2 linked regions of the Homo sapiens genome follow. The protein of the gene in region 2 interacts with the protein of the main gene of each other region in a pairwise test. Each region holds a gene or a part of one and is shown on either strand. Other genes may lie near its edges.

Region 1 (3,819 bases), on a different chromosome or scaffold from region 2:
TGGGCAACAAGAGCAACGCTTCGTCTCAAAAAAAAAAAAAAAAAAAAAAAAGTTCCTACCCTGGGAGGAAAGGCAAAATTGGGAGTTTATTGTTTAATGGGTACAGAGTTTCAGTCTTGTTAAGACAAAAAGAGTTACAGAGATTGATTGTATAACAATGTATTTAACATGAGTCAACTGTACATGTAAAAATGGTTAAGATGGTAAATTTTATGCTAAATATATTTTATTTAATTAATTTATTTATTTTTGAGATGGAGTCTCACTCTGTCGCCCAGGCTGGAGTACAATGGTGCAATCTTGGCTCACTGCAACCTCCGCCTCCCGGGTTCAAGCGATTCTCCTGCCTCAGCCTCCAGAGTAGCTGGGATTACAGGTGTGCACCACCACACTCAGCTAATTTTTGTATTTTTAGTAGACATGGGGTTTCACCATGTTGGCCAGGCTGGTCTCGAACTACTGACCTCAAGTGATCTGCCCACCTTGGCCTCCCAAAGTGCTGGGATTACAGGTGTGAGACACCGTGCCCGGCCTGTTACATATATTTTACAAAAAAGAAAAAAAAGACTTCCATCCAGAAGGTATACAAATATTTTCCTATAATTTCTTCTAATATTCTCATAGTTTTTCACCATTCAGTCCTTCAATCTATCTTGTGTTGATATGTATCTGTGTATAAAGCATATGAAACACAGATCACATTTTGTCATCTTGCAGTAGTAGAAAATACCATCTACAATGCCCTATCTAAAAGTTCTCTTTTTAAAAAAATGCAGTATCTTTGAGTGGTAAGATTATGGATGATTTTTATTTATTTTTTGCTTCTCTGTATTTCTACAAGTTCTACATTGAACATGCAGTACTTATGCCATTAAAAAATATAGGAGAGGGAGCCAGGCATGGTGGCTCATGCCTGTAATCCCAGCACTTTGGGAGGCCAAGGTGGGTGGATCAATTGCAGCCAGGAGTTAGAGACCAGCCTGGTCAACATGGAGAAACCCTGTCTCTACCAAAAATACAAAAATTAGCCAGGGATGGTGGCAGTCGCCTGTTGTCCCAGCTACTCGGGAGTCTGAGGCACAAGAATTGCTTGAACCTGGGAGAGGTTGTAGTGAGCCAAGATTGCACCACTGCACTCCAGTCTGGGTGACAGAGCAAGACTCTGTCTTAAAAAAAAAAAAAAAAGGAAAAAAATTATATATATATATATGGGAGGCCTGTAATCCCAGCACTTTGGGAGGCCAAGGCAGGTGAACTGCTTGAGTCCAGGAGTTCAAGACCCAGCCTGGGCAACAAAGGAAGGCTCTGTCTCTACAAAAAAATATAAAAATTAGCCAGGCATGGTGGCACGTGCCTGCGGTCCCAGCTACTTGGGAGGCTGAGGTGGGAAGACTGCTTGAGTCCAGGAGGCTAAGGCTGCAGTGAACCGAGATCACGCCACTGCACTCCACCCTGGGCAACATAGTGAGACCTCATTTCTATTAAAAAAAATAAAATATAGCGGATAAATCACCATTCTACCTAAACCCATCAGTGAGCAGCTTAATTATCAACTAACACCTTAGCACGCATCATGAGTCCTCAGTCAGATAAAAGGAAACAATAAAACAAAATACCACCCCATACATATAGAGTAATTCATAACTTATAAAATGTTTTTATACACTATACACCTAGGCTTTTGGACAGTGAAGCAAAGAGAATAGGAAGTGGAAAGTATGGTGATATCTGAGTATTTAGTGTGTGCCAGCTATAGTGTTAGGTATCTTATATACATTATCTCATTCAATCCTCCCAACACTGAGATAAGACACTAACTCTCATCTTAGTGGTAGACATACAGGCTCAGATAAATTGATACCTTGCCCAACCAGTCATTGCTGGGGCTTGGATTTGAACCTAGGTCTATTTGCTAAGATAATAGCTAATACACATAGTTATTATGTGCCAAGAAGTGTTTTAAGGCTTTACATAAATAACTTTATTTACTCTTCATAACAATGTTACAGGCAGGTGCTACGATGATTCCATTTACAGATGAGGCAACTGAAGCACACAGAGGTTAAGGTTCCTGCCCAAGTTAATAAATCTAGTACGAGGTAAACTGGTACCTGCACCAACAGTAACTGCCAAAACCCATGTACTTTCTACCACACTGGGCTCCTTTTCTTCCTCTCTTCATTCCGGAATGGAAAAACCACATAAGGGGAAGTGAAGAGGTGGGTGGAAGCATATACTACTTACCTGCCATTATGTGGCACTAAAATTATCTCTAATTCACAGAATCTAAATAATATTGACAAAAAATTGTAACATATTATGTAATGCCTGACAATGTATAAAGTGCTTTTATATTTTATCTCATTTAATTTCCAAATAATTATGTGAAGTAGATAGAGAAGACATCCTTGATTTATAGGAAAGAAAGCTTAGAGTGGTAAAGTGACTTGTCTGAGATGATAGAAGAAAAGGTCTGAAACGAGGTGTCTGTACTTCTTATAGAGTATTATTTTCAACTATGTTGTCACCTGCAAGAAGTAGTTGAAAAGCATCCCCTCATTCTGCCGAGATACCAGCTTACCTAGGCGAGCCCTTGTCCTGGGTCCCTGCATCTGACTCCGAAGTTCAGGCCTCAGATGAAACTTCTTTGCTTCATCAACCAGATCCCTGCATTGTAAACTACAGCGGATGAAAGGCTGAAATATAGCAGACAGCAGAGTTAGGCACTGGGGATACCTGTAATACTATAAGAGTACAAAGAGCACATGCAAATAATTAACTTCTGACTACAGAAAACCAGTTTGCAAAGCCCTGTGATTCCAGGAGTATTGCTGGTAGTAACCATGCTCTCGGTTTCCAGAAATGATTTTTAAAATTTACTTGAAAAATAGATAACATACTAGATGGATCAAAAATCAAATGATATAAACAGATATGTTGAGCAGTATTTCCCATCTATCGCAGCGCTTACATTTAACTATTTTTACATAGTTTGGATGCCCTTCCAGGGATTATGCAAACACAAGTACATAATAACTAATAAGAATTTTAAGGGGAAAACCAAAAAGATTCTGTTATTTTCTGGGTGACAGGAAGAATCATATTTTGTCTGAAATATCTCCCCCAAGGTTCACAGTCCTGTTGTAATTACCATTGTCTATTTCTGACAGCTCTGTACTGGACATCTTTCATTTGCCTCCCAACTCACTCTGTACCTTTTTCCACTCTGCTCTCTGGCTCAGAAGACTGGCCTATATGAACTGTGTCAATAGGGCTTCCTATGCCTTCTAGCTTCTGGTTGGGATCAGCCCAACCAAAGGTCAAGGTTTCTCTCAAGGCAGTGACTCTACACGATTCTCTTTCCTTTAAGGTTCTAGTAACCACTCCTCAACCTTGTCCCTTCAGGCTTAGGGGTTGTTAATAGCTTATGTCCTAGATCCAGGTTATTTCACTGTCTTTTGTTGTTTCTCTGAACTTGCGCCTTTGTAAACAGCTTCTTTATTAAAAAAAACTCTTCTAAAATTGTCCTGTTTTGAGTATAGCATCTGTTTCCTGTTGGGACCCTAAAGGACACAGCTCTAATTAAATGGCACCTCTATTAACCTGACCCAAGAAGTTCTTAGTCGAACTGGAAAGGAAAACAAACAATAAATAGTAGTAAACACTTATGTACAAAGACTTGGTTTTAAAAGTTTTCACATAGTAACTTACTCAATGCTAACAAGAACCTATGAGGAACGTACTATTATCATCCCTGTTTTACACATAAGAAAGCTAAGGCACAAATATATTAAGACATATTAAGTTCACAGAGTAAGT
Region 2 (4,416 bases):
CAAACAGAAATAGCTCCAGCTACATTTTGAGTGTCTCTCAAAAACCTCAATAAGAACAAAAAATGAATACATGACTAGAGTAATTTTGAGTAGCATACCCTCAAATTGAAAACACTGTTTGCTATATATTTGTAAAAGAATATTTCCTATAGGATTTTTTTTTAAGTGTGGAAAGAAGTAAGCTATAGCTATATTTTCCATAATTCTCAAAGACTTTTTATTTTACTGATCAACACAGTCCTTACTAGATCAATAATGATCCTAAACACTTTCCCTTGTCATAGATTTGTATTTATTTATTTATTTATTTATTTCAAGAGATGGGGTCTTGCTCTGTCACCCAGCCTGGAGTGCAGTGGAGCGATCACAGATCACAGCAGCCTCAACCTCCGATCCACCCCCTCAGTCTCCCTAGTAGCTGGAACCACAGGTGTGAGCCACCATGCCCGGCTAAATTTTTGTTTGTTTTTTGTAGAGACAGGATCTCCCTGTGTTACTTAGGCTGGTCTCAAACTCCTGGGCTCAAGCGATCCTCCTGCCTTGGCCTCCCAAAGTGCTGGGATTACAGGCATGAGGTTTTTTTTTTTAAAGCAGCAAACATTTATTATCTCACACAGTTTCTCAGGATTCGAATCTGAAAGTGTCTTAGGTAGGTGGTTCTGGCTCAGAGTCTCTCATGAGTTGCAATCAAGCAGTCATCTGGATATGTTACTTTTTAAAGTTATAAAGCATATAAAAAAGTGGCTGCCCCCCACCAAAGTGAAATTTAAATTCCATGATCACAGCTAACTCGGATCTGTAATATTCATTTACTTTGAAAAACCAATAACTTATCATTGCCACATTTTTAGTGCACTTTTTAGAAGTAAAATACGCTCGAAAATGGTCTAAATTATGCAAACTTCCCTTCTAGTATTACATTTAAAGATACTTGAAGCCCCACATAATTGAGTTCAATTTGCTAAAGCAAATGAGGTCTAACCTCTTGAAGATTTCCTGAAGTATTAAAATAATCAACACTTAAAATCAAAAGAAGATACAACAATCTAAAGTCATATATAATGCAATAGAGAATTTACTAAATTATGTATTAACCATAGTACAAGATAATGAGCAAGATATATTATTCTCAGCCCCCTAACCAATGTACAAATTTGCATCAACTTGATATTATATATTAAATTAATGAAGTTATGGACTTTAATTTCTTCTGTGTCTAAAACTGGAAGAGGGAAGAAAGCATTTCCTAACATTCTATCATAAAAGAAAAATGTTAAGAGAAACTTTCCTTTAAAACCATGCTTCATATGTCCCCTTCGGTGTCTTGATAAAATGTTATCATACAGGAAAACATAAGCTTCTAAATCAAAGATTTCCTTCAATGTTTTCAATTTGCATAGATCACAATATAACACACACATTATTTGAAACATTTTTTGACTTCAGACAAATGCCTCAAGATTAATCATATTAAGCTATATTTGTCATCATTACTGCTTCTTTATTTAAAAAAAAAAAGGAAATAAAGCAAGCAATACATAGCATTCAATTCCCTTGATAAGTTAAAATCATTTCCCCCTTCTATCCCCAAATGAACTTTATTCTATTCCATTTAGCCAAAGGTACACAGCCAACACATCTTTGTGTTATACTGTGGCAAATCAGGGTTTAGATACCAATGCAACTATTATCAATGGCTCAGAACCAAACATTGTTAACAAAACACACTGAGTGGATCCTCCCTCTGCGTGTGTGTCTACATGTGCCCATTCATAACATGACCCTCCTACACACACAGAAACTCAATTTCTACTGAATTACAAAACATCTTCACATTATTAGAAGTGTATAATAAAACTGTCCTCTTTAATGTTCAAAGAAAGAATAATTTCTAAAGCGATGAGAGAGAAGAGTTAATACCAGGATTGCTGCTACCCATCAACTTTAATTCAAAGCAAAGTACAACTCAATGTCATTTTTACCTCTACTGTAGCCTCGACGGATACAAAATTAACTTCGCTGTAGAATAAAGTATCCTGGCATCCCAATGGATTATTTACTTCTCCGATTTGACAGAACATATACGTGAGTCTTTTGTCCCTCCCACAGCATCCCAGGGTGTCAACATCATCTCTGCCACAGCAAATGACGAGCAAATCCCTCAGATCATTACTTCAGCACCCTAAGTACAAGAAAGTCGCGGCCTTCACTGTCGTTACAACACAGCAAACAGATTCAGTAGTCCCATGTTCCTTTCCATGATAGTTGGGGAGGCGGGGTGGGAAATAAGCGCTCAGATTTCCTAGGAATCCTTCGTGTTCGGTGCTGGTACCAGAAGTGGCATGGGTACAAGTGATATGTGGGTCACCCACAGAGAGAGACGCAGAACGAAGCTTCGTGACCCTCCAAGTTCAGTGAAGACACCCAAAGCCTGGGGCAAAACGAGGCGGCAGCCTTCGGGGAAATCGGGCAGAACCAGAACGATCTCCGAGATGGAGAGTGACGGGGTCTGGCACGAGCCCCGGGCTTGCAGCGAACTGAAAGTCCCCGGTACCCCTCCCCTCCTCAGCAGGCTCGGTCACTCGGCGAGGGGTGCGGCCGGAGGAGGGGGTCGAGACTGGGGGAGGGCGGCGCCCTGGGGGGTCGGGGGGTGTGTCCTACCTGGGCCGTGGCGGACGCAGGGGTTTCTGGAGGAGGGCTCTGGTCCAGCTCAGGACCGGGACCGGCGGGGGTTAACCCTCGGCAGGCGGGACCGCCACTGCCTGCCCATCCCCCACCGCCGACTGCGGCGGGACCCGAGCGCGGCTTCCAGGGCCGGCCGGCTGGGTAGTCCCCTGGGGTACCGTCCGCGTTTACTGGCGGCGGCGGCGGCGGCTGCTGCTGCTGTTACTGCTGCTGCCGGCTCCCCCAAGCCGCTGCTCTTGTGCCAGCACCTGCTCCCCCTCCTGCCGCCGCCGCCGCCTCGTCCCCACCGCTCCCATCGCCGCTGCGGCGACTACTGCAGAGCCCGCTGACCCGACCCGACGTTATTCTCCCCCCTCGTAACCCGACACAGCCTAGCCCACCTGCCCTGCCAGCGCGCACGCCCACCTCTCCGCTACAGGTGCTGATTGGAGAGTGCGTTCCGAACTCGCAGCGTCGGTTGGCTAGTCCCATTGCCTATCACGAAGGGGGCGGAGAGTCGGGCAGAAACCGTCTCCGCCCCCCACCGGAGAATTGCCGCTATCTTCAGGTTTGCCTGAGAGGGCGAGTTACCGGGAAAGGAGCATCACAATGGCAGCGCGCATGCGCCTAGGAATTCTGGGCCTCGTAGTTCCAGCCATAGCCGCAACTCCCCGCCTGTCCCGAGGAGAGAAGTAGGGCTTCCGAGACAAGTAGTTTGCGCACATAGGTGTTCTCCTAGCGTGACAGTTAAATTGGTTATAGAGGGATGGTTGGGACCCCATGGTTGGGCTTTTCGGAATAAAATCGGAAATGCTTTGTCACGATACGAAATTACACACTGAGGCAGTCGCGATGAAGGGCCCAAATCGTGAGGCCCTGCAAGCCTTAAGGATCCATCCTCTTCCTCAGCATCAGCGCTGACAGCATCCCGCAAATTGGCGCCGTCCCCAGAACCGCCTAACGTGAAGCTAATCATCTTTGGGGGACTGGGGAAGGGCCTTAGGTGTGACGAGGAAAGGAGATGGGCACTTCCATAAACGAATGTCAACTTGGAGACCGGAGTGTCCTTACGGTTTCACAACCCAAGAACAAGATTTCATTCCCTTTGTGAAACACCACCAGCTAAAGACTCAATGGCCAGCCCCGGTGCACACCAGTATGCGATGCTGAGCAAGTGTATGCGGGAGGTGCTCAAAGACTTTCAAAGAAAAGCGAGGAGGGCGGAGCAAGGACGCTGTGCAGGATGCGTTTCTATTTAGTGTTGTGTCAGTCGCTTTGGCGAAGGAAAACCTTAAGATTAAGCACCTCTCCCATCTTTGCCCACCAGTGTACAGTAGAGAAAACACATGAAAAACGCTAAACAGCTTTCCTAAGGCTATAAACTAATCAGTGGCAAAACCAAAACTCAGGTCTCTCATACGCCCCACATCTAATGTCCTTTCTACTTAAGAATCACAATGATCCCCAGGGTTCTGCCATGAATGGAAAGAATGTAATGAATTATGAACTTCATTTTTACTTTAAATCCTTTTCTTCACTCAAGTGACATTGTCATTAAAGCTGATTAAGAATATAGAAAGGTAAATGACTAATCCTATATTCAATCTTGGAACTGTTCCTATAGAATCTGTTTCTTCTTGCTCAGGAAGTGCCACAGCCTCTTGCCATTCTTTTTAAAAACAGCAGGCATCTCTACTCTCTGTCATGTCCAGATCCTTGGATTGAAAGCAGGACAAAATGTACATTAAAGGC

What was found.
Region 1: the proteins of TTBK2 (region 2) and KLHL12 interact in binary tests that used the Homo sapiens proteins (3 or more experiments, as listed by UniProt).

What each region holds. Positions count from the first base shown.
Region 1 is NC_000001.11:202,906,429-202,910,247, forward strand, and holds part of KLHL12 (kelch-like protein 12), read right to left. Parts: intron 2,697-3,819; coding exon 2,582-2,696; intron 1-2,581. UniProt on the Homo sapiens protein: Substrate-specific adapter of a BCR (BTB-CUL3-RBX1) E3 ubiquitin ligase complex that acts as a negative regulator of Wnt signaling pathway and ER-Golgi transport.
Region 2 is NC_000015.10:42,917,777-42,922,192, forward strand, and holds the start of TTBK2 (tau-tubulin kinase 2), read right to left. Parts: upstream 3,003-4,416; 5' UTR 2,662-3,002; exon of another isoform or gene 2,082-2,661; coding exon of another isoform or gene 1,983-2,081; intron 1-1,982.